Regions from separate parts of the Homo sapiens genome. Here regions 2, 3, 4 and 5 are each linked to region 1. The links come from fine-mapping of genetic effects on gene expression. A gene starts in region 1. Each other region holds a variant in brackets. All regions are shown on one strand. Distances are from middle to middle. Region 1 holds the start of JAKMIP3 (Janus kinase and microtubule interacting protein 3). Region 2 has its middle 25 kb from the start of JAKMIP3. Region 3 overlaps STK32C (serine/threonine kinase 32C). Region 4 has its middle 14 kb from the start of PPP2R2D. Region 5 overlaps DPYSL4 (dihydropyrimidinase like 4).

What was found. PIP is the estimated chance that this variant, and not a neighbour inherited with it, causes the effect. A credible set is the group of variants that fine-mapping cannot tell apart.
Region 2: its variant is the best candidate, but not a certain one, in a credible set for the expression of JAKMIP3 in sun-exposed skin (GTEx, PIP 0.83).
Region 3: its variant is the best candidate, but not a certain one, in a credible set for the expression of JAKMIP3 in whole blood (TOPMed, PIP 0.66).
Region 4: its variant is the best candidate, but not a certain one, in a credible set for the expression of JAKMIP3 in breast (GTEx, PIP 0.81).
Region 5: its variant is the best candidate, but not a certain one, in a credible set for the expression of JAKMIP3 in blood mononuclear cells (TOPMed, PIP 0.77).

Annotation. Positions count from the first base shown.
Region 1 is chr10:132,063,692-132,067,805 of GRCh38, forward strand. JAKMIP3 (Janus kinase and microtubule interacting protein 3) reads left to right here and starts at 2,255. Exons shown (of 24, transcript NM_001323087.2): 1 at 2,255-2,370. RefSeq lists enhancers at 1,032-1,779, 4,054-4,114.
Region 2 is chr10:132,038,974-132,043,087 of GRCh38, forward strand. It overlaps a transcript of JAKMIP3 not described here. Among named protein-coding and RNA genes, the nearest start is that of JAKMIP3, 25 kb to the right of the region's middle. RefSeq lists an enhancer at 113-950. The variant T/C (reference allele first, on the strand shown) is at 2,406.
Region 3 is chr10:132,206,253-132,210,366 of GRCh38, forward strand. STK32C (serine/threonine kinase 32C) reads right to left here. Exons shown (of 12, transcript NM_173575.4): 11 at 2,782-2,849; 12 at 1,240-1,899. The coding sequence ends at 1,758. Among named protein-coding and RNA genes, the nearest start is that of DPYSL4, 21 kb to the left of the region's middle. The variant G/A (reference allele first, on the strand shown) is at 1,984.
Region 4 is chr10:131,884,706-131,888,819 of GRCh38, forward strand. No RefSeq gene overlaps it. Among named protein-coding and RNA genes, the nearest start is that of PPP2R2D, 14 kb to the right of the region's middle. The variant T/C (reference allele first, on the strand shown) is at 2,381.
Region 5 is chr10:132,198,924-132,203,037 of GRCh38, forward strand. DPYSL4 (dihydropyrimidinase like 4) reads left to right here. Exons shown (of 14, transcript NM_006426.3): 8 at 1-48; 9 at 1,433-1,589; 10 at 1,919-2,060; 11 at 3,023-3,193; 12 at 3,723-3,902. Among named protein-coding and RNA genes, the nearest start is that of DPYSL4, 14 kb to the left of the region's middle. The variant C/T (reference allele first, on the strand shown) is at 2,389.

The DNA of each region.
Region 1 (4,114 bases):
CAGGAATCAAAAGCACATACACGCATGTGCATCTGTTTGGAAATGAAAGTAGATGTTTTTTCTGATTCTAAAAATATTGTTTCCAATTCTACAAAAAAAATACATACAATTCAGAAAGATACAAAACAAAATATCAAGTCACCTGAGATCCTATCACCTGGAGCTATGGCCACTTTAGAGCTTGGTATCTACGCTTTCAGGCTTTGTTTTTCTTGAGTGCAACACACACAGGCACGCGTTTTTAAAAACAAATAATGTGATCATACTATACACACTTTTTTAAACAGAAATGTGAGCATACGATACCAGCTTTTTTATGGCTGACTTTAAAAAACTTAAACAATAGGTTGTTTACGTCTTTCTGTTAAGCTTGGACTGGGGACATTTTTAAATGGCCCCATTGTATTTGGACGTATGTGCGTTTCCCATCGCTTGTTAAATCACTCCTCTGTTGGACGTCTAGGATGTTTCCAATTATTCCCTGTTATATTATGGACAACACTGCCGTAAGCATCCCTGAGTGAGTTATATTTAAAGGCTTACAACAGCGCCTGGCACGGGGTAGGTGCTATAAAGTATTTGGACTAAAGTCAAATCTGTGCACACACCATCCTTGTGTTGTTTCCCCAGGATCAATTCCAGCAGGAGGACAGCTGGGCTGAGGGGGCACTGCCCTCGTCAGGAAGGTTGTCCCCGTGGCCTGCCTCCGACTGAGGAGGAGCCACCCTCGGGGTCGGGCGTGGACCCCGAGCCGCCGGCATGGGAACCCTCTTTGCTTCAGGGCAACACGGGAGGGGTCTGGATCTCCGACCCACCGTTCCGGGTCTGAATCCAGCTCCGGGACCTGACAGGGATGTGATTGTGGGGCAGCCGCATGGCCTCTTGGCGCTCCAGCCTCCTCCCCTGTGACATAGAGGCAGCGATGGTTGGTAACCAGGGACAGCGGGCGGCTCCGTCACACGAGTCAGGACATGTGACCCTTGGAGGGTTGTTGCATCACCCTGGACGTTTGGCCAGACGTGTGGCCATGGTTTTAATCAGGACAATTTTTTGCTTGCTCTAACTTATGAGGGTGGCCAGATCTAGACAGACAGCAGAAGTAACCCGAAGTCCTGGCCTGCCCTGTGCCATCCTCTGACATGTTATCATCGGCGTTCACTCTGTGGGCTCCTCTCGGGGTGATGCCTGCCGGTCTCAGCTTTGGGGTGAAGTGACATTTGGCCTTGACTAGAAGAGGCAGGTTGTGGGGGGCAGGCAGGGTGCAGGCGAGGGAACTGAGGCAGAGCGGGCTGGGAGCAGGGGGGATGTAGGGTCCTCCCAGGCTGACCCCCAGAACCTGGGCGTGCAGGCCTGCTCTGGGGTCCAGGCTCCGATGCAGTCTCAGCGCAGGCCCTGGTGGCCGGAGACAGGGCAGGGCAGGAGCTTCAGGCCACCCGCACCGGCAGCCCTCAAGGCTGCCTTGATGGAATCGGACCCAGATGGACTCTAAGCGGCCTCCTGCTTGGAAACCCTGTCAGACCCTGCGTTTTCTACAGAGCGGCTGTCACACGGCTTTTCCGGACGGTGATTATGGACTGCGTGTGGGATTGGCGGGCCAGGTGAGCTCTCGTGCTTGCCCTTCACACAGGAATGCTGCTGGTCTCCTGTGTCTGGTTCCCGTCTGCATTTTCAGTCCTCAGTGTTGAGTGTGTGCAAATCCCTTCTATCACCTGACATTTAAAATAGATACCCTCAGAGTGGAAGTTCGTTCCTATTATTGACCCGCTCACTCTGCAATCTTGAAGGGGGTTCTCCAAGCAGGAGGGAAAGCCGGCCAGAACGCGGTCCTGGAGCAGCCAGGAAGCCGAGGGGGCGGTGAGGGCAGGGATGGCCCAGCCGTGGCCTCTGCCGCTCGCTGGTTTTCACGTGAGACTGCCGCCGGGCCAACCCGGAGCCCAGGCCGCCTCTGCATCTGAATAGAGCCAAGCTGCCTTCAGGATCTCACCTGCGTGGCTGTGCCTTCGGCCGCCCGGCCGTGCAGAGCTGCGGGCCCCTTCCCCACCGAGAAGCGTCTGTTCGCGCCCTGCAGGGAGCTGGGCTGGGGGCTCAGAGGATGCCTCTGTGCTTGGCCTTAAGGTGCACAGGGAGAGCTTGGGCGATCCTGGCTCAAGGGCTCTGCTTGGAAACAGCTCGGGGAAATGGTTCCTCCCCCTGGATGTAGTCACAGCGTGGTAAATTCCATCTGAAAAATAAAAGCCGAGCTCTTTGCTGAGTCATAGAAGCTCGGAGCTGATTTGCGCAAAAGCCGGACTGAGTCTTGGACGAGCCGGGAAAGATTCTCACAGTCGAGCAGAGCGATGGGAGAGAGGAGCAGACAGCGAGCTTTGGAATGTGAGTGTTTATTTTCTGACTGCTGCAGAGGCTTTGTTGGTTTCGGTTTGGCTGTCTCTGCACAGGCTCTTTCCACCTGGTGCTCTTCTGTATTTAGTGCGCACACGTATGTGGCTGGAAAGTTGACAGTTTGGGGTCTGTCCTCTGAGGGGTGCAGGGACGATCACAGAGGAAGATGCTTCATTTATCCGTTTTCACGTTCATGCTCATGCACACATTTGGAGGAGGCTTGGGCCTGCGTTCCCAGTAGTAGGTTTCTCCTTTAAAGCATGGGTGTGTGTTCCATCCCATATGTAAAGCGGATGCTTGTTGGCACGGCAGCCGTGGTGGGGTGGGTTGGGGAAGCCAGGCTGAGTCTGTGTATTGCCGGCTGTGGTGAGAATCCCACGGACATAGCACCAGAGAGCTGTCTGCACAGCCCGGGAGGCCTGCGGCGTCCGGGTGCTTCCTGGCTCCGTGGGGTAACCGGCTGGACTTTTTTGCTGCTTGTTTTCCTTTTGAAGAATAGGTCATCTTTATGGCTTGAGGCCTCACCACCTACCTGCGCATTGATTGGATGGTGTCTTCTCTTTAAAACTTAATCAAGAATCACACATCACTCATTGATATAACTTCTTATGCAAGGAACTCCAGGTTTTTGGGAAACAACAGCTTATTAACTTACTAATTCACTCTTTGAGGTTATTGCACCATGCCTCAGTTTCTACAGTTGTTCAAAGAAAATCCACTGCTGATTGGGACTGGCAGGGCTGCGGTGGAAAGGGTGTCACAGGTAACTTGGCAGTACGTTGTTGTACTGATGCTTATTGAGATGTCAGTGAGACTGGCCGGGAAACCATGCAGGCACCCTAGGGATGTAAATACTTGCTGCTGCCGTTGATTTTGTTGTTCACAGTGTGGGAGAACCAGTCACAAAACGGTTTTCTCATTCCAAGCCAAGCCTGGAGTAGTAGACTTGAGAGTCCTCTCAGTGGATCGGGCCTTTGAGCAGGTCCGTGGTAAAACGCCACCTCAGTTCCCGAGAAGAGCAGCAGAAGAGGAAAGTGAGCCGGGCCGAGGAAGGACCCTCAGTTTACATTCACAGCATTACCGGCAAAAGGCTGGCGTTTGGATGAGGTTCCCTAAGAGTCCCACAGAGTAGATCAATATGATCAATATGTGCTTGGAGAAGACAAGACGCCTGGCACATTCACATTCCTTCTCCAAGGCTGAGGGTGGGGGGAGGGCATTGGCATTCCTGCTATTCCCGAGGTTTCCCTGCCTCTCCTGTGAGTTGAGGGCACCCCTGTGAAACCTAAGGGCACGCTGTGGCAGAGAACATGCACGGAGCTCCTGCTTCTCTCCCGACAGCCCTGGGAAGGCCTTACTACTTTAGGTCCTAACTAACAATATCCAAACGACCAGGTGGTGGTCCCACAGCAAGGGAGCTGTCAGTCAGAGCTGTGCCTCTGCCCCCGTATTTTGGATCGAGCTCCTCCAAGAGAAGTAAGTGTCCTATACATGTTCTTGGAAGGTTGATCTTGACTGTGGACTTCCGTGTGGACTGTGGGCTTCCGTGTGTACTGTGGGCTTCCGTGTGGACTCTGGGCTTCCGTGTGGACTGGACTGTGGGCTTCCATGTGGACTGTGGGCTTCCGTGTGGACTGTGGGCTTCCGTGTGGACTCTGGGCTTCCATGTGGACTGGACTGTGGGCTTCCGTGTGGACTCTGGGCTTCCGTGTGGACTGTGGGCTTCCGTGTGGAC
Region 2 (4,114 bases), 25 kb before region 1:
ACACCCTTCACCCAGCGGAGCCGCTCGTGAGGCCACACGGGGAACCAGGCTCAGGCCACATCAAGGAGCATGCAGTTCAGCAAGGGAGGAGGTACAGACATCGCCTAAAATCACCAGAACTAAGGAGTGTGGAGTTGCAAACTCAGCATTCGAACCTCTGTCTCATTTTTAAAAATATTTAAACATTTTTTTAATAGAGACAAGATCTTGGTATATTGCCCAAGCTGGTCTTGAACTCCTGATCTCAAGTGATCCTCCTGCCTTGGTCTCCCAGACTGCTGGGATTATGGGCATGAGCCACCGTGCCCAGCCAGGACCTATGTCTCTTAGCTGTGATTCAGGAACTTAGTCACCTCAGCTTGGGCCCGGATCCCACACCAGGCCCCCGTCTGCCCTGCCTTGCCCCCTCCGGTTTTGACATCCCCCCATACCTGCAACCCCCAAGCAGAACAGTCTCAGTCAGGCCACCCACCGTTTCCCAGTAAGGCCAAGGGCTAGACCCTTTCTCCCATGGCCCCTGGACAGCGTGGTCCCTGCAAGGCTGAGAGGCCTGGCCCTCTACACGTGCCAGGACTTCCTGCTGCATGTCACCTGCCTGTGGCTCACTGGCTTCCCTGGCAGAGGTCTCTTAGTACAGCAGCACATCTGTGCACTCCAGAGAGGCGACCCCCACTCCCTCCATAGCGCTGGGCTGTCAGACCAGTGAGGTCTGAAAATCTGGCTGGCCCCCGATTCCCTACAGCGGCATCCAGCAAAGGTCTTGAAGATGGGGGAAGCTTCATTTCTGGCCTCCTCTCTCGGCCTCCAGCCGCTGTATTGACTTGGCTCTTACAGCCTCTCTGGGTTGCCCCCACCTCCACGCCTCACGTGCTGGGGCGCCTCTGCAAGTCACGCTGTGTGTGGAGGTCTCACTGCTCCCCAAGTCTTTGCCATGACACTAAGCACTTGGGTTCCTTCACAAGCTCGTGCTTCTTTGTTTTGTTTATAAAAATTCTAAAATTTCAGAAGGCTGGGATGAAGACAATCAGTACTCATAACTAACACGTGCCCAGGTGACTGCTGTAAGTCATTAGGTGCTGCTGTGGACCAAATTGTGTCCCCCAAGTTCACAGGTTGCGCTCTGACCCCCAATGTAATGGTATTGGGGGGGTGGGCCCTTTGGGAGCTGACGGGGTGAGATGAGGTTATAGGGTGGGCCCCCAGGATGGGATGGGTGCCCTTACAAGAAGGGACATGGGATCGGGCTCTCTCCACAGGGCACAGAGGCAGCTCTGTAAGCCAGGAAGGACCCTCACCAGGAACCAAACCGGCCGGCTCCTTGGCCTCAGACTTCCAGCTCCAGAACTGCGAGAAATGTCTTGTTTAGGCTGCCTGGTCTGTGGCATATTGTGATGGGGATGAGCTGACCGAGACAGGGCCCTCCCCTCGCTCCGTATCTATACATCTGCTGGCTGCCTGCTGACCTCCTGACCGCTGATGGGTTTGCAGACTCCCCCAGCCACACACAGAGTTTGGATCATGCTATAATCATTTTATATCCTGCTTTTTAAAAATGTCATATTCATGAGCATTTTTTTACTATTCAATTGTTTCTTTAATCAGTTCCTTATAAAGTATTTTGGGTTGATTTTAATCCTTTACAATTGTGAACCACTCCCGATGAGCTTTTTTTTTTTTTCATTTTCATTTTTTTTTTATCGTGGTAGATAAGAACACTTAACATGAAATAAATCCTCTTAAATTTTAAGTGTACGACACTTAAAGTGTCAATGACCCTTGGTGGTTGGTGCAGGTTCAGCGCAGAATAGCAGATTTCTGGAGGTTATTCCTCTCACTTAACATTAACAGAAACTTTTCTCTGTTGAGAGCTCCCACTTCCTAGCCCTGGAAGCCTCCCTTCCAGTCTTTATTGTTGTGATTTGACTATTTTCAACACCTCATAGAACTGGAATCATGCAGTACTCGATTTTCTGTGCCTGGCTTATTTCACTTAGCATGGTGTCCTCAAGGTCCATCCAGGCTGCAAATGGCAGAAGCACCTGTGTCTCGCGGCTGAGCGGCATTCGTCAGATGTGCACACCACATTTTCTTTCTTTTTGAGATGGAGTCTTGCTGCCACCCAGGCTGGATGGAGTACAGTGGTGTGATCTCAGCTCACTGCAACCTCTGCCTCCTGGGGTCAAGCGACTCTCATGCCTCAGCCTCCCAAGTAGCTGGGACTACAAGTGTGTGCCACCATGTCCAGCTAATTGACACCACATTTTCTATAAACATTCATCACCTGTTTATTTTAAGGCTTTCCTGTGGATCAGACAAACTGGAGTGCATATGTTTCAGGGAGTGGAGAGCTGGCTGGGTCCGGGTGGGCTGGAGTGGGTGGTAGGTGCCAGTGGGAACAGCCAGGG[T/C]GGGGAACCCTGAGAGGAGGTGAGAGGATGAGGGCGGCTGTATGCAGGATCCCGGCAGCATGGGCTGTGTTCTGGGAGCTGCTGCCCCGGACGGGCACAGCGGTAAACACCAGGAGCCAGTGTGGCCCCTCTGCCGCGTGTCCCCACGCCCTAGGAGGTGCATCTTCTGGTGTTGGGAGTATGGGAGACTTGGCTGGGGCTGGGCCAGCAAGGCCGACACCCCCACTCCTTTCCTGCGGCTGGTGGCATCATTGAGCACCACGGTCAGGAAAGCTGGAAACATAGCACGCTGGCCCCGTGGCCCAGGCTGGGTGGGCATGTGAGCTGCTAAGAGAATTTCATCGTCCGTTATAGCTGGCCTGAACTGTCGCGTGGCCAGCCTGTGCCAGCAGACACCTGCTCTGCCTGGGATCCCACCTCAGGCCTCTTCCATGGCTGCTTGTGTTTCTTTTCTTTCTATCCTTTCTTTTCTTTCTTTTTTCTTTCTTTTCTTTTTTTTTTCTTTGAGAAAAAGTTTTGCTCTTGTTGCCCAGGCTGGAGTACAGTGGTGCCATCTCGGGTCACTGCACCCTCCACCTCCCAGGTTCAGGTGATTCTTGTGCCTCAGCCTCCCGAATAGCTGGGATTACAGGCATGTGCCACCACACCTGGCTAATTTTTGTATTTTTAATAGAGTGGGGGTTTCACCACATTGGCCAGGCTAGTCTTGAATCCTGACCTCAAGTGATCTGCCAGCCTCAGCTTCCCAAAGTGCTGGGATTTTAGGTGTGAGCCACCGTGCCCCGCTAGTTCACTTGCTCGCTCGCTCCTTCCTTCCTTCCTTCCTTCCTTCCTTCCTTCTTTCCTCCTCCTCCTTTCACAGGGTCTCTGTCACCCAGGCTGGAGTGCAGTGGCATGATCATGGCTCACTGCAGCCTCCACCTACTGGGCTCAAGTGATCCTCACACTTCAACCTCCTGATTAGCTGGGACTACAGGTTTGCACCACCACGCCTGGCTAATTTTTGTATTTTTGTAGAGACGGGTCTCTCTCTTGTCCATGCTGGTCTCGAACTCCTGGGCTCAAATGATCTGCCTGCCTCGATCTCCCAAAATGTTGGGATTCCAGGCGTGAGCCACGGCGCCTGCTGTGTTTCTCTTTTCATCTTCACTCCTCTTCATGGTGCGGCCACCCTGGATCACCTGGAGTTCCTCCCTCCCCATCCTGGCTGCAGGGATGAGTGCAGGCTCTCAGGAACCAGGGACTGCGTGGGGAGAGGGCTGGAGCCTGTGTCCTCTGATAGCCAGGCCATAGCATCCTGGAGCAGCTTTGGAGAGCCCGTCTGTTCCTTTCCTCTGGTTTTAGAGCTCTCTGCCATTGTAACTCACCCTGGATCATTAGGGTATTAGAAATAGTTAAGAAAACCAGGTGCTTGAAGAGCTGTTTTGTATCAGCTTTACTTGGCTGGTCCTATAAAAGGCTTTTCCTTTGGGAGCCCAGGGTGGGTGGATTGCTTGAATCTAAGAGTTCGAGACCAGCCTGGGCATCATGGCAAGACCCCATGTCTCAAAAAAAAAAAAACAAAAATTAGCGAGTTATGGTGGCACGTTCTTGAGGTTCCAGCTACTCGGGAGATTGAGGTGGGAGGACTACTTGAGCCCAGGAGACAGAGGTTGCAGTGAGCTGAGATCACACCACTGCACTCCAGCCTGGGCAACAGAGCAAGATCC
Region 3 (4,114 bases), 140 kb after region 1:
TCGCAGTCACTGGGCACTCGCTGTTTGTTGAGCAGAGAGCCAGGGACACCTTGTGCCACCGGTTCTCTGGCCCCTGCCCATGCACCGATGGTGACAGAGAATTTCCTGCCGTGGTCTCTGGGAACCACAGACAGGCCCATCTCTCACCCTGGGCTGCTTATAAAGCTGTGCAGATCCCAGGCGAAGGCCCTGGGCCCTCAGCATTTCCTTCCCGGGGCTCCCTCTGGCCCAGATGTGGGAGCTGATGTCCCCCACACCAGCATCTCCCACTCTGCCCCAGTGTGGGGGGCGATCAAGGGAACCAGACAGCACCCACACCTCACCAGTGTCTCGAAGGAGGACAAGGTGCACCACCCTGCCATGTTCCCCAAATGCACTTATTCAAACCCCCACACCTGTCCTTGCCCCGAGCCTGTCTCTGACATCGCCAGACTTCCACCGAGTACACGGCGCCTCTGGGCCCTCGCAGAGACCGGGCCACCCTTCCTGGTGGTGATTTGGGTGCCGTGTCCCCCATGTGAGCTGCTGAGGGCTGGAAGGCTAGTTTCTGCCATGATTCAGAGGACAGGGGTGGGTGGGGGACGGGAAGCTGCATTCTATCCCCTCGGACTTCTGACTCTGCTCGTGGCATGGCCGGTTCTTCCCCAAATGTTCTTTGGCCGTTGTCATCTCCATCTCGCAGCCCAGCCAAGGACGGGAGGGCCCTGTTTGCCAGGGGTGCAGTGGGGCTCATGGACACAGGTCTAGGCACATGTCCACTATGGCCGCTGTCCTGGGAAGGGGCACAGACCCGCCACACCCATTTCCTCAGAGGAAACCAGCACAGGCCTGTCTGGAGCGCTGGGCTGATGGGCTGAGCCCGTCCTCCTCCAGCGAGACCAGAGAGAAGCACACAGGCCGTTTACCCAGTTAGTTACAGTTCCAACCACAGAACCACCCAGCCACAGTGAGAGGGATACGTCCCTTTATGGAGGGCCAAGCACTGCCCGGCACTGCGGTGGCTCCACGGTGCACGGTGCTGTCCTGGGCTCCTCTGCCTCCAGGACCGTCTCTGCCTTCCACAGCCTTACGGCTCCAGGGCCACGGAGACAGGCACCCACCCCAAAGCCATGGTCCGGGAGCTCTGCCCTGAGGAGCTGCCCACCCCACTGGCTGCCCCAAGTCCAGGCCAACCAGAAACGGCAGGCACCGGCCTGACGGCCAGGCAGACACAGGACGTACGCAGAACATGCAACATCGAGCGGTTCTCACATTGTAATTCTCAGAGGTGAAAACTACAGAAATTGCTGGAGCAGTTTGAATCTCTAGAAAACATTCACCTCCCCACCCACTACCCCAACCCATGCCCTTGACCTCCAAGACCTGAGCCGAGCCTGGGGCACCCGCGGCCTGTGCTGCAAGGGTCACCTTGTGACGAGGGCCGTGCACAGCCTCCGGGCTGAGCAGGGACAAAGACTCCTGTCCCATCCATGGCCCCAGCTCCCCGTGAGCGGTAAGAGGGCGCCCAGCAGCGCTTCCTCCATCTAGGCGGGTCTCGGGGGCCCACGGGAAATGCCCTCCACAGGTGTCCCCTGCACCCACAGCCTCTTGTCCCCTGCACCACCACGAGCCTGAGGTGTGAAATGTGTCCGGGGCACTGTGGGCACCGCCAGCCAGGCTGGGTGGGAACGTGAATGCCAGGCCTCGGCCCATGGCCCTCCCTCTGGCAGCCGAGTCTCCAAAGCAGCTCAAGGGGTGAGGACCACGGGCGTCCCGGCCTAGCCGCTCCCGGCCGAGGGGCAAATGGGGCCGCACATGGGCAGGGCGGAGCGTTCCGCCTCGTCCTCCACAGGCTCCGCAGCATCCCTGGACTCAGGGGCGGGGAGAGGCTCCCTCGGGAGGTCCTGGCTCCTCTTCAGCCTGGGGTGGCAGGAACACATGGAGGGCGTTATGCCCCCACCTCCCTGGCCTCACGGTCCCATGACCTGCCCACGGGCTCATGGG[G/A]TAGGCCATGGCGTGGATGCCCAAACGTGGGCCACAGGCTCGGTGTCTGCTGGAGAGGCCATGCTCCCGATACACTGGCAGGGAGCCTGGGGACGGGTGGGGGCACGTGAGCATGCTGGCGAGGCTCGGCGTGTTTCCAGCCAGAAGCCGAAAGGCCTGACTGTGCAGGTGCCATAGGTCAGTGACTTGGGAATGAGGCTCGGCTAAGCCTCATTCTTCACCCGGTCATCTGATCCCCAGGGTGCCAGTCAGTGCCCTCAGCCGTCTGCACGTGCTGCCCTGCACGTCCTGTCCATAAGAGCTCAGACCCACCTCCTCCAGGAGGCCCTCCTTGCCCCGTGCGGGCAGAGGGAGCATCCATCCTCCCTTGGGCCCCACCGTGGCAGCTGCTGCTATTTCTGGCCTGCCTTGCCTGCTGCCAGTCATCTGTGCCCTTTCTGTCCCCTGGGGCCTGACATTCAGGAAAGGTCTGCTGAGAGACTGAGGGCGTGCCTGGGTGGGGGAGTTGACGTGGCTCTGATGGGGCCTCCTAGGAAGTCACCACCCCTCATCTGGGCAAATGATGTGTCTCTCCCCAGAAGATTCCAGCCACGGGCCCCGCGTGGAGCACAAACATGCCAGAGCCTGGCAGGGGCCTCCCGCCGCTCCCCTCCATAGCTGCTGCTCAGAGTCCCCAAAGAGAGCAGGGCCACGCACCCCAGGCCCACAGGTGCCCGCTCACGTGGCCAAGAAAACCTTAACCTTAGCCCCATTTTCCTCCTCTCTGCCACCACGCCCACCCACCCCCAACACACTCACTTTTCTCTGTTAAAAATCACGAAGTCTTGCTGGATGGCATCGAGGCAGTCTTGAAGATAGTCATTCTCCTGTGGATGGAAAGGCACACGTGAGCGTGGGGGACGCTGTCCAGGTTCCGCCCATGTCCCCTCAAGTGAGTGTCTGGGCATCCCCATCGGGCCTCCACCTGTGGCTTTGGATGACGGCCTCTGGGCTATTGAAGTGCCCCGGCCCTCCAGCAGCCAGACTGCCCGGGAGCTCGCATCTCTGCGGGTGACTCACCCAAGCCCGAGGATGCCAAGGCCCAGCTCCCTTGCCTCTGGGTGGATGGCTTGGACTTGCTCCGTGGGGCCTGCAGGACCAGGCAGAAGCTGTTCTCTGCGGGACTTTGCTGGAAACCACTCCCTTGCCGGGCCTTTCCCGTCTCATACCGGGTTCTCCCAGCCCCTCATCACAGCACACACACACCTGTCCCAGGCCTGCTTCTGGGGCCCTGCCCAGAGAATCCTGGAACCAGGGCTGTCTTAGAAGCAGGTCCTCAGGGCAAGCTTGTGGACGGAGGCTGCCCCTGGCAGGACCCACCCTTACTGGTGTGTGATGGGCAGGCAGGACTACTTCCTTCAGGCAGCAGGACCACTTCCCAGGACGCAGGGGTCGGGGGAGGGCGTGGGTGGGGTGGAGGGGGTGCTGGCCGCTCAGCGCTGGCATGGTGTGGGGAAAGCATCATTATGGTGACCGTGAACTTGGATGGTGACGTTGGTCACTACCAACGCGTGAGCAAATGACAGACCCAGATGAGCCAAGTCACAGTGAAAAGTGCAGGGAGTCGCAGGCCTCGGGTGGCATTAAAAGGGCCCCCACCTCCTGCAGCTGAGGCCAGAGGATGCCCACTTGTGAGGACCACAGAACCTCAGATCCATAGGAAGTCACCCACGTCACAGCCAAGGCCCTGGGAGGGAGGGAGCTGGGCTCTGAAGGTCGGAGGGGACGTGTGAGTGGGTACACACCAGAACGCTCAACCCTATCTAGACATACAAAACGTACAGCAAAACCCAGTGTTACCATCTTACGGGACCACCCCCCCATGCGATTGGCCAGTGACGGAAGCATCGTTATGCAATGCGTGACAACAGTCTGCGTTCACCCGAGACGGACAACAGCATGCTTTCACGGCCCCAGCCAGGGCTAAGGGGACTCTTCCCTGTCACAGTGTCGTCTGTGCCTCGAACACCTGGACACTCTTGCCTGCTATCCATGGATCCTATTTTTGGTCTCGCTCTGTCACCCAGACTAGAGTGCAGTGGCGTGATCTTGGCTCACTGCCAACTCCGCCTCCCAGGTTCAAGTGATTCTG
Region 4 (4,114 bases), 180 kb before region 1:
ACAGACACCTGCTGGGGAGGGACAGACACCTGCTGGGGAGGGACGGACACCTGCTGGGGGGACACAGATACCTGCTGGGGAGGGACAGACACCTGCTGGAGAGGGACAGACACCTGCTGGGGAGGGACAGACACCTGCTAGGGAGGGACGGACACCTGCTGGGGGGGACACAGACACCTGCTGGAGAGGGACAGACACCTGCTGGGGAGGGACAGACACCTGCTGGGGAGGGACGGACACCTGCTGGGGGGACACAGACACCTGCTGGGGAGGGACAGACACCTGCTGGAGAGGGACAGACACCTGCTGGGGAGGGACGGACACCTGCTGGGGGAACACAGACACCTGCTGGGGAGGGACAGACACCTGCTGGGGAGGGACAGACACCTGCTGGGGAGGGATGGACACCTGCTGGGGAGGGACGGACACCTGCTGGGGAGGGACGGACACCTGCTGGGGGGACACAGACACCTGCTGGGGAGGGACAGACACCTGCTGAGGAGGGACAGACACCTGCTGGGGAGGGACGGACACCTGCTGGGGGGGACACAGACACCTGCTGCGGCCCACGCCAGAGCCAGGGTTTCTGGACTTGGTGTTTCCACGCAGGCGCCTGCGCCACACATCCAGGCAGCCTCCGCGCCCTGCCCCAAGTCCCTGGGTGTCCACATGGTCAGCACGGGCAGGAGCGCGGGCCTCGGCCCGGGTGCGCTTTCCATTCCCGAGGTCGTTTGTAGGAACTGGGGTGATGCCGCCTCCCGCTGGGGCTAAACCTGCCAGACTGGAAGGAAAGTCTGCGCTGAGGGGCTGCTCACACTCGGCCAGCAGGAGGCAGCAGAGGGCAGCCGCGCCCTGGCTGGGAGGCGCCCAGGGCCGGAGGGTTGCGCTCTGCAGGGTGTGTATCTGCAGGCCTGGGCTCAGCTGGCAGGATTGCGGGTCTGCAGTGTTTCTCAGGTTGTTTGTACTTCGACAGTAAGAGCTGGGCCCAGAAAATGATTTCCCAGCTCTGCAAAGATTCACAGTAAGAGCATTTCACAGGTAGGAAGCACGTCACCAGTGTTCAGAGAGCTTTCATTTATTTTCTTTTGGCCTCATAACTCTTTATGGCAGGTAGGTCAGCAGAGCAAGAACTGTGACTTATCAAGGATGAGCAAACAAACCCGGAGAGGCTGGAAATGCACGCGGGGTCCTCGAATTAAAGCTGGGCTGGGAATACCATGACTTAGATTCCCAGTGCCCAGCCCCAGCCTGGCCAGGAGGGTGGTGGCCCTGCCCCAGCTCCACCCAGCTATCTGTCCACCCTGCTTCTGGTGGGCCGCCTGGGGCCAATGCATCTCCAGTTATACTCCCATCCACCGTGATCCCAAGGAGCCAGGGTCTTGGTCTTACACCCCCAGGCTCATGGACACTCACTGAGGCTTATTTTTAGAGCTCAGAGGACTTGAAGTGCTCCCTGAACCAGCATGCGTGGGTCAAGTTGGAAAGGGCACATTCTAGAATTTCTTGTTTTCAGTTGGTTTTATAACGCCTTTTGTTTGAATGTATTGACAGAAGACTCAGTACCGGACCCCTGAGAATGAGTCACCCCTCTTAATGGTGTACTGCCCTGTCAGTGGCACGTCTCAGGAGGTGACCCACTCGGCAGACAGCAAAGTGCTGAGTGCCATGATGGTTTCCCAGGGAGAAGGCGGATCCGAGCCGGTGGCGGGAGAAGGGAAGAGACAAAGGCCCACGCTGCGTCTTCTGGGAGTGGAGGAGCCTTTCTTTCTGGAGCAAGCAGAAAGTCATCTTATCAGTCAACTTGGCACTTCCTCCCATGAGAACGTGAGAAGATTCACATGGTTAAGGGGACTTTGATGTACAGAGATCTTGTTTCACTGCACAGGATTTTTAAGTTACTCAGATAAATGGGGGAAGACTTGACACTTATTGTGCATAATTTGAATTCAAATAGGCTCCCAGTGAAGGGAAATTACCAGACACTTCGAACAGAGTCTATGCCTTCCGTTCTGTGCCTTCTGCTGATATTTAGGCTCAGAACTGCCTTAGAGCTGCCTGATTTGTATAATCTAGAGAACAAAACCATGTTTTGGAATATCATAAAGCTGATATTTTTATTTTTGAAATGAAGTTATCCCCACCTGTGAATTATTTCTAAAACAAAAAAAAAAACAAAAACAAAACCTCTTAGGCTGGGCGTCATGGCTCACGCCTGTAATCCCAGTACTTTGGAAGGCCGAGGTGGGCAGATCTCTTGAGGGCAGGAGTTTAAGCCCAGCCTGGGCAACATGGTGAGACCCATCTCTACTAACAAGACAAAAATTAGCCGGGTGTGGTGGCACACACCTGTAATCCCAGCTATTCGGGAGGCTGAGACACA[T/C]GAATCGCTTGAGCCTGGGTGGCAGAGGTTGCAGTGAGCCAAGATCATGCCACTGCTCTCCAGCCTGGGCAACAGGGCCAGACTCTGTCTCAAAAATAAATAAATAAATAAAATGGATCATAGACCTGACTGCTTCTTGGCCTTTCAGCTATAATAAGTGTAAAATAGATCATAGACCTGTATGTGAAATGCAAAACAATAAAACTCCCCCAAGATTACATAGAAGAATATTTTAGTGACTTTTGATTTGGAGACGAGTTTTTAGATACAACACCAAAGGCATAAGCCATAAAAGAAAAATATGATAAGTTGGACTTCATTAAAATTAAATATTTCTGCTCCATGAAAGACATTGTTAAGAGAATGAAAAGATAAGCCACATACTGGAAAAGAACTGGCAAAACACATACCTTATAAAAGATTGTATCCAAAATATACAAAGAACTCTTAAAATGTAACCGTAAGAACACAAACAACCCAATTTTGAAATGGGCAACAGATCTGAACCTCACAAATGAAGATATACACATGGCAAATAAACATATGAAAAGATACTCAGCATCATACATAATTAAGTAATTGAAAATCAAAACAACAGGCCGGGTGCTGTGGCTCACACCTGTAATCCCAGCACTTTGGGAAGCCAAGGCGGGTGGATCACTTGAGGCCAGGAGTTCGAGATCAGCCTGGCCAACATGGTGTAACTCCATCTCCACTAAAAATACAAAAATTAGCTGTGCGTGGTGGCCTCCCACCTGTAATCCCAGCTACTTGGGAGGCTGAGGCAGGAGAATCACTTGAACCCCGGAGGTGGAGGTTGCAGTGGGCCAAGATCATGCCACTGCACTCCAACCTGGGAAACAGAGCAATACTCTGTCTCAAAAAAATAAAATAAAATAAAACAACAATGAGATACCACTGCATGCCTATTAGAATGGCTAAACTTTAAATTTGACAATATCAAATGTTAGTAAGGATGAAGAGCAACAGGAACTCTCATTAATTGCTGGTGGGGATGTAAAATAGTGCAGCCAATTTGAAAGACAGTTTGTCAGTTTCTTACAATGCTAAACACACTCTTACCATAGGATCCAGCACCCACACCCCTAGGAATTATTCCAGATGAGTTGGAAACATGTCCATGCAAAAACCTGAAATGAATGTTTATAGCAACTTCACTTACAATTGCCAAAAGTCGAAATTACGAAGGTGTCCTCCAAAAGGTGAATGGATCAAAAAACCGTGGTGCGTCATACAGTGGGATACTATTCAACAATAGAAACAATGAGTCATCAAGCTGTGAAAAGACCTGGAGGAGTCTTCAACGTCTATTACTAATTAAAAGAAGCCAATCTGGAATGGCCACAGGCTATATGAAGCCAACTACATGACATTCCAGGCAAAACTATAAAGACAATACAAAGAGCAATGGTTGCCAGGGGTTGTTGGGGGCAGGGAGGGACGAATGGGTGGAGCACAGGCTATTTTTAGGACAGTAAAATGATTTTTTTTTTTTGAGACAGGGTTTCATTCTGTCATCCAGGCTGGAGCACAGTAATGCAGTCATGGCTCACTGCAGCTTTGACCTCCCAGGCTCAAGCAATCCTCCCACCTCAGCCTCCTGGGTAGCTAAGAGGCTCAAGCAATCCTCCCACCTCAGCCTCCTGGGTAGCTAAGAGGCTCAAGCAATCCTCCCGCCTCAGCCTCCTGGGTAGCTAAGACTACAGGTGCATA
Region 5 (4,114 bases), 140 kb after region 1:
TGATGAGCAAGGGGGCGGCCGACGCCATCGCTCAGGCCAAGCGCAGAGGTGAGCACCCAGCCCCGCCTCTGATGCCGAGGGGCCATGGTCTCGGCCTCCTGGGTGCAGCCCTGGGGAGATGCAGGTTCCCTGAGTCCCTGCATCGGGGCGGGGCACTGGACCCTGAGTCCCTGCATCGGGGTGGGGCACTGGACCCTGAGTCCCTGCATCGGGGCAGGGGCTGGACCTGAGTTTCCAGCCTTGCTGGAGCAGCAGCTGCTCACCAGGGGCCCTGAGGCAAAACATGGGGACGCTCATCCCATTTCCAGTGGGGGTGGGTGTGGGGAGAATGGAATGATGAGGAGGGTCTCCAAGAGAGAATTCCAGTTCCAACAAGGAGGCCCTCCCTACATTGCTATTTGCTGTGTCCAGAGCCGGGGTGCTACCTGCCCACAGAATGCCAGCCAGCTGGAGCCTGGCACTGCAGAGAGCCTCAGGCCTGGGCGGGGGGGTGCCACCCAGAGCTGTGATTGGCAGCGGCTTGACTGTGGTGTCCCCCAGAGGCTACTGGGCTCAGAGGGTCCATGGAGCCCCAGCAATCACTGGGGCTGGAGAGGGCCAAGGATCCAGGCACAGAACCCAGGTGACGGGTAAATGAGGGGGCATCCCCTAGGCGGCCTCTGGATCTGGTCTGGTTTCCCCTCCTCCTGCTGTCCGCACTGAGTCCTGAGAGACCTCGTTTTCTGGGCCTGCCTGGGGCTGTGCAGGTCCCTGGGCAGGGTGGGGGGCGGGGTGGTGGTGGTGGTGGGTGGTGCCCTTCTATGTGTTTCCTGCATCGAGGGTTGAAACTGAAACCCACTCAGTTAACTGGGAAAAGGACTCTGAGGCGTGCAGGTGAATGGGGGTCTGCAGGGGTGAGGCCCGGGCCTCACTCAGGACACCAAGCAGCCTCGGGGCAGCAGGCCAGGCCCTTCTCAGGGGTACCCCACCCGCCAGGCTCTTCTCGGGGGGTGCCCCACCCCACCTGGGAGCATTTCTCCCCCACCCACTGGTGGGAGCTGCCTCAGCTGTGAGCTGGAACCCTGGTGAGGCCATGGCCAGGGCACCCCCGGCCAGTCAGCCGCCATGCAGTTCACTGTGCCTCGCAGCCCACAGGCACGCCCTGGCCCCGCTGGAGTGCCCGGGGTCCTGGGGTGGGGTGTGGGCAGAGAGAGGACTTGGCGTCCGCAGGCCAGACTCCCTTTCCCAGAAGGACCCCCAGGGCCAACCACGTCTGCCCGCGACCCAGGCCTCTGCCCCACTTCCTGCCCAGGGCCAGGGACTCTAGACTGGGCACAAGCTGTCCCAGGCAAGGAAAGTGAGGGGCAGTCGTGGGTGTCAGCAGCAGCAGTTCTCGGGGCCCCAGGGGGTGCAGGTGGTCGGTGGGGCACCTCTCATGGGCCTCGTGCTGCAGGGGTGGTCGTGTTTGGGGAGCCCATCACCGCCAGCCTGGGCACCGACGGTTCACACTACTGGAGCAAGAACTGGGCCAAGGCCGCAGCCTTCGTCACATCACCCCCTGTCAACCCAGACCCCACCACGGCGGACCACCTCACCTGCTTGCTGTCCAGGTAAGCAGCCTCTCCAGGTGGCCCCAGGTTGGCCGCCCGCTGCACACCCTGCCAAGGCTGTGGCCCCGACACCCCAGGCCTCTCCCACGGCTCCCATAGGGCAGCCCGGACAGTGGCGGGTGGGGAAGTCTGAGCCCTTTGGTCCCAGCGGGGGCTCCCCTGGCAGGAACCAGTCCCCGCTCCCCTGCACAGAGGCACCAGCTCTGCCCAGCGAGAGCCACTCAGATGACCTCTAGCCCCTGCGGCTGTGCTGGCCAAGGGGGCTGGAGCTGACCTGGCCTCTGCCGGCTCAGGAAGGCCAGGACCCTCTGACCCTGGCTTGTTTCCAGCGGGGACCTCCAGGTGACAGGCAGCGCCCACTGCACCTTCACCACTGCCCAGAAGGCTGTGGGCAAGGACAACTTCGCGCTGATCCCCGAGGGCACCAACGGCATTGAGGAGCGCATGTCGATGGTCTGGGAGAAATGTGTGGTGAGCACAGGCCTGGCCGGGGCACGCCGTCTGGGGAGCGGCTGTGGGCGGGATTGTGATGGCTGGTCAGAAGGGAGCCCATCTAACCAGTGCACACTCGTGAAACAGATCAGAGCACACGGGCTCCGGGGTGGCGGATTCCCCACCCAGGGCGCCTCAGACACGTGGTTCTGGCCCCTCCAGATGAGACTCCAACAGCAACAGGGGCAGCTGGTAGCCCCCCACCCCTCAGCAGACTCTAGTGTTGCCCGGACACTGTGTTTGCCCAGGGGTCAGCATGGGGTCTCCACGCTGTGATGTTAGTGCTCCCCCGCGATGCCCTCACGAC[C/T]CGTCGCACACCGCCCTGTCCTGCGCCCTCCCGCATCCTCAGCCCCACCTCCCCGGGCAACTGAGCTCTTCCCCTCAGCTGCTCCTGCCTTCCCAGCCTCCAGGGCTCCCCAAGGAGACTGTCACGTCCTTCAGGGGACACAGGTGTTGCCACTGAAGCTCCACTCTCGCTGAACCTTCGTGGAAGCTTTACCCACAAAGTGAATGCAGAAAGGCTTCGCCCAGGAAGGGGCAGACCAGCAGGCATCACTGAGATGGGCTCCCTGACTCACCAGTGCAGCGTTCTTACCCCAGGGGTTACTCAGGCGTTCTTACCCTGAGTGTTGCCATGGCGAGGGCCGTGGCTGGAGCCCTGTCCTGATCTTGGCTGCCTGGGTGGCACTCTAGTGCCCGTCTTCACGGGGGCCTGGTATCCGTCTTTGTGGGGTCCCAGCGGTCCAGCATCTGACCTGGCAGGGGCCCCGTGTCCTGCCGTCCAACCTTGTGGGGGGCCTGGTGGTCCAGCGTCTGTCCTCACGGGGGCCTGGTGACCTGGCATCCATCCTTGTGGGGTCCTGGTGGCCCAGTGTCTGTCCTCGCGCAAGCCTCACCCCAACCCCACCCGTCGCCCTCAGCTCAGCCTTCTTGTTCCCCAGGCCTCTGGGAAGATGGACGAGAATGAGTTCGTCGCGGTGACCAGTACAAATGCTGCCAAAATCTTCAATTTTTACCCAAGGAAGGGGCGAGTGGCTGTGGGCTCTGACGCTGACCTGGTCATATGGAACCCCAAGGCCACCAAGATCATCTCTGCCAAGACCCACAATCTGGTAAGAGAAGGCGGCTGTAAGTCAGGGTTGGCCTTTGTGGGGCCGGGACCCCAGGGCAGCCTTCCCAGGAGAGGCGCAGGACAGAGGCCCACGTGGCAGCAGCAGTGGCCTCAGCCATCCCAGGGCCGTCCACACAGCCTGTCCCAGGCCAGACACTGAAATGGGCCCTGTCCACGTCACCTCGCTGCGTGGCCGCTGCATCTGTGGTCCCCTTGTGCCATGGAGGAGGCTGGGGCAGAGCGGTGCCGTGTGCACCTGCCTAGCCAAGGGAGAAGTGACCCTCCCTGCCTGCCCACGCCTGTCCCCTTTGTCCTCGAGAGAAACGGGACTCAGAAACGAGGTCCGTAGGCCGAGGGGGGGCATTCCTCCCGAGTTCCAACCCCTCAGTTCCAGCATCTTGCTAGGGGCTCAGTGTAGGCACACCGGGCCTGCTCCACGCTGGGCGGCCACAGTGCTCCAGCGGCTCAACGGGGATGGGACTGTTGGGCCCCAGCGTGGAGGCACTGGACCCTCGGGCCTCTCTCCCCAGAACGTGGAGTACAACATCTTCGAGGGAGTGGAGTGCCGGGGAGCGCCTGCCGTGGTCATAAGTCAGGGCCGAGTGGCGCTGGAGGACGGGAAGATGTTTGTCACCCCGGGGGCGGGCCGCTTCGTCCCTCGGAAAACATTCCCGGACTTTGTCTACAAGAGGATCAAAGCTCGCAACAGGGTAGGGCGGCACCCGCAAGGGTGTTGTGCAGGTAGGCAGGTGGGCGCTGAGTTCTAGGCCCAGAACGCACCCCTGGTCAACCTGGCCCGGCCTCCCGAGGGGTCAGGAAGACAGAGCGGGGCCGCTGCTTGCCCAGGGCCCTGGTGGGTCTAAGTGGAGAAGAGCCTGCTCCCGGAAGATGGCAGGGGAGGCCCCCATGGCACTGGGACCTT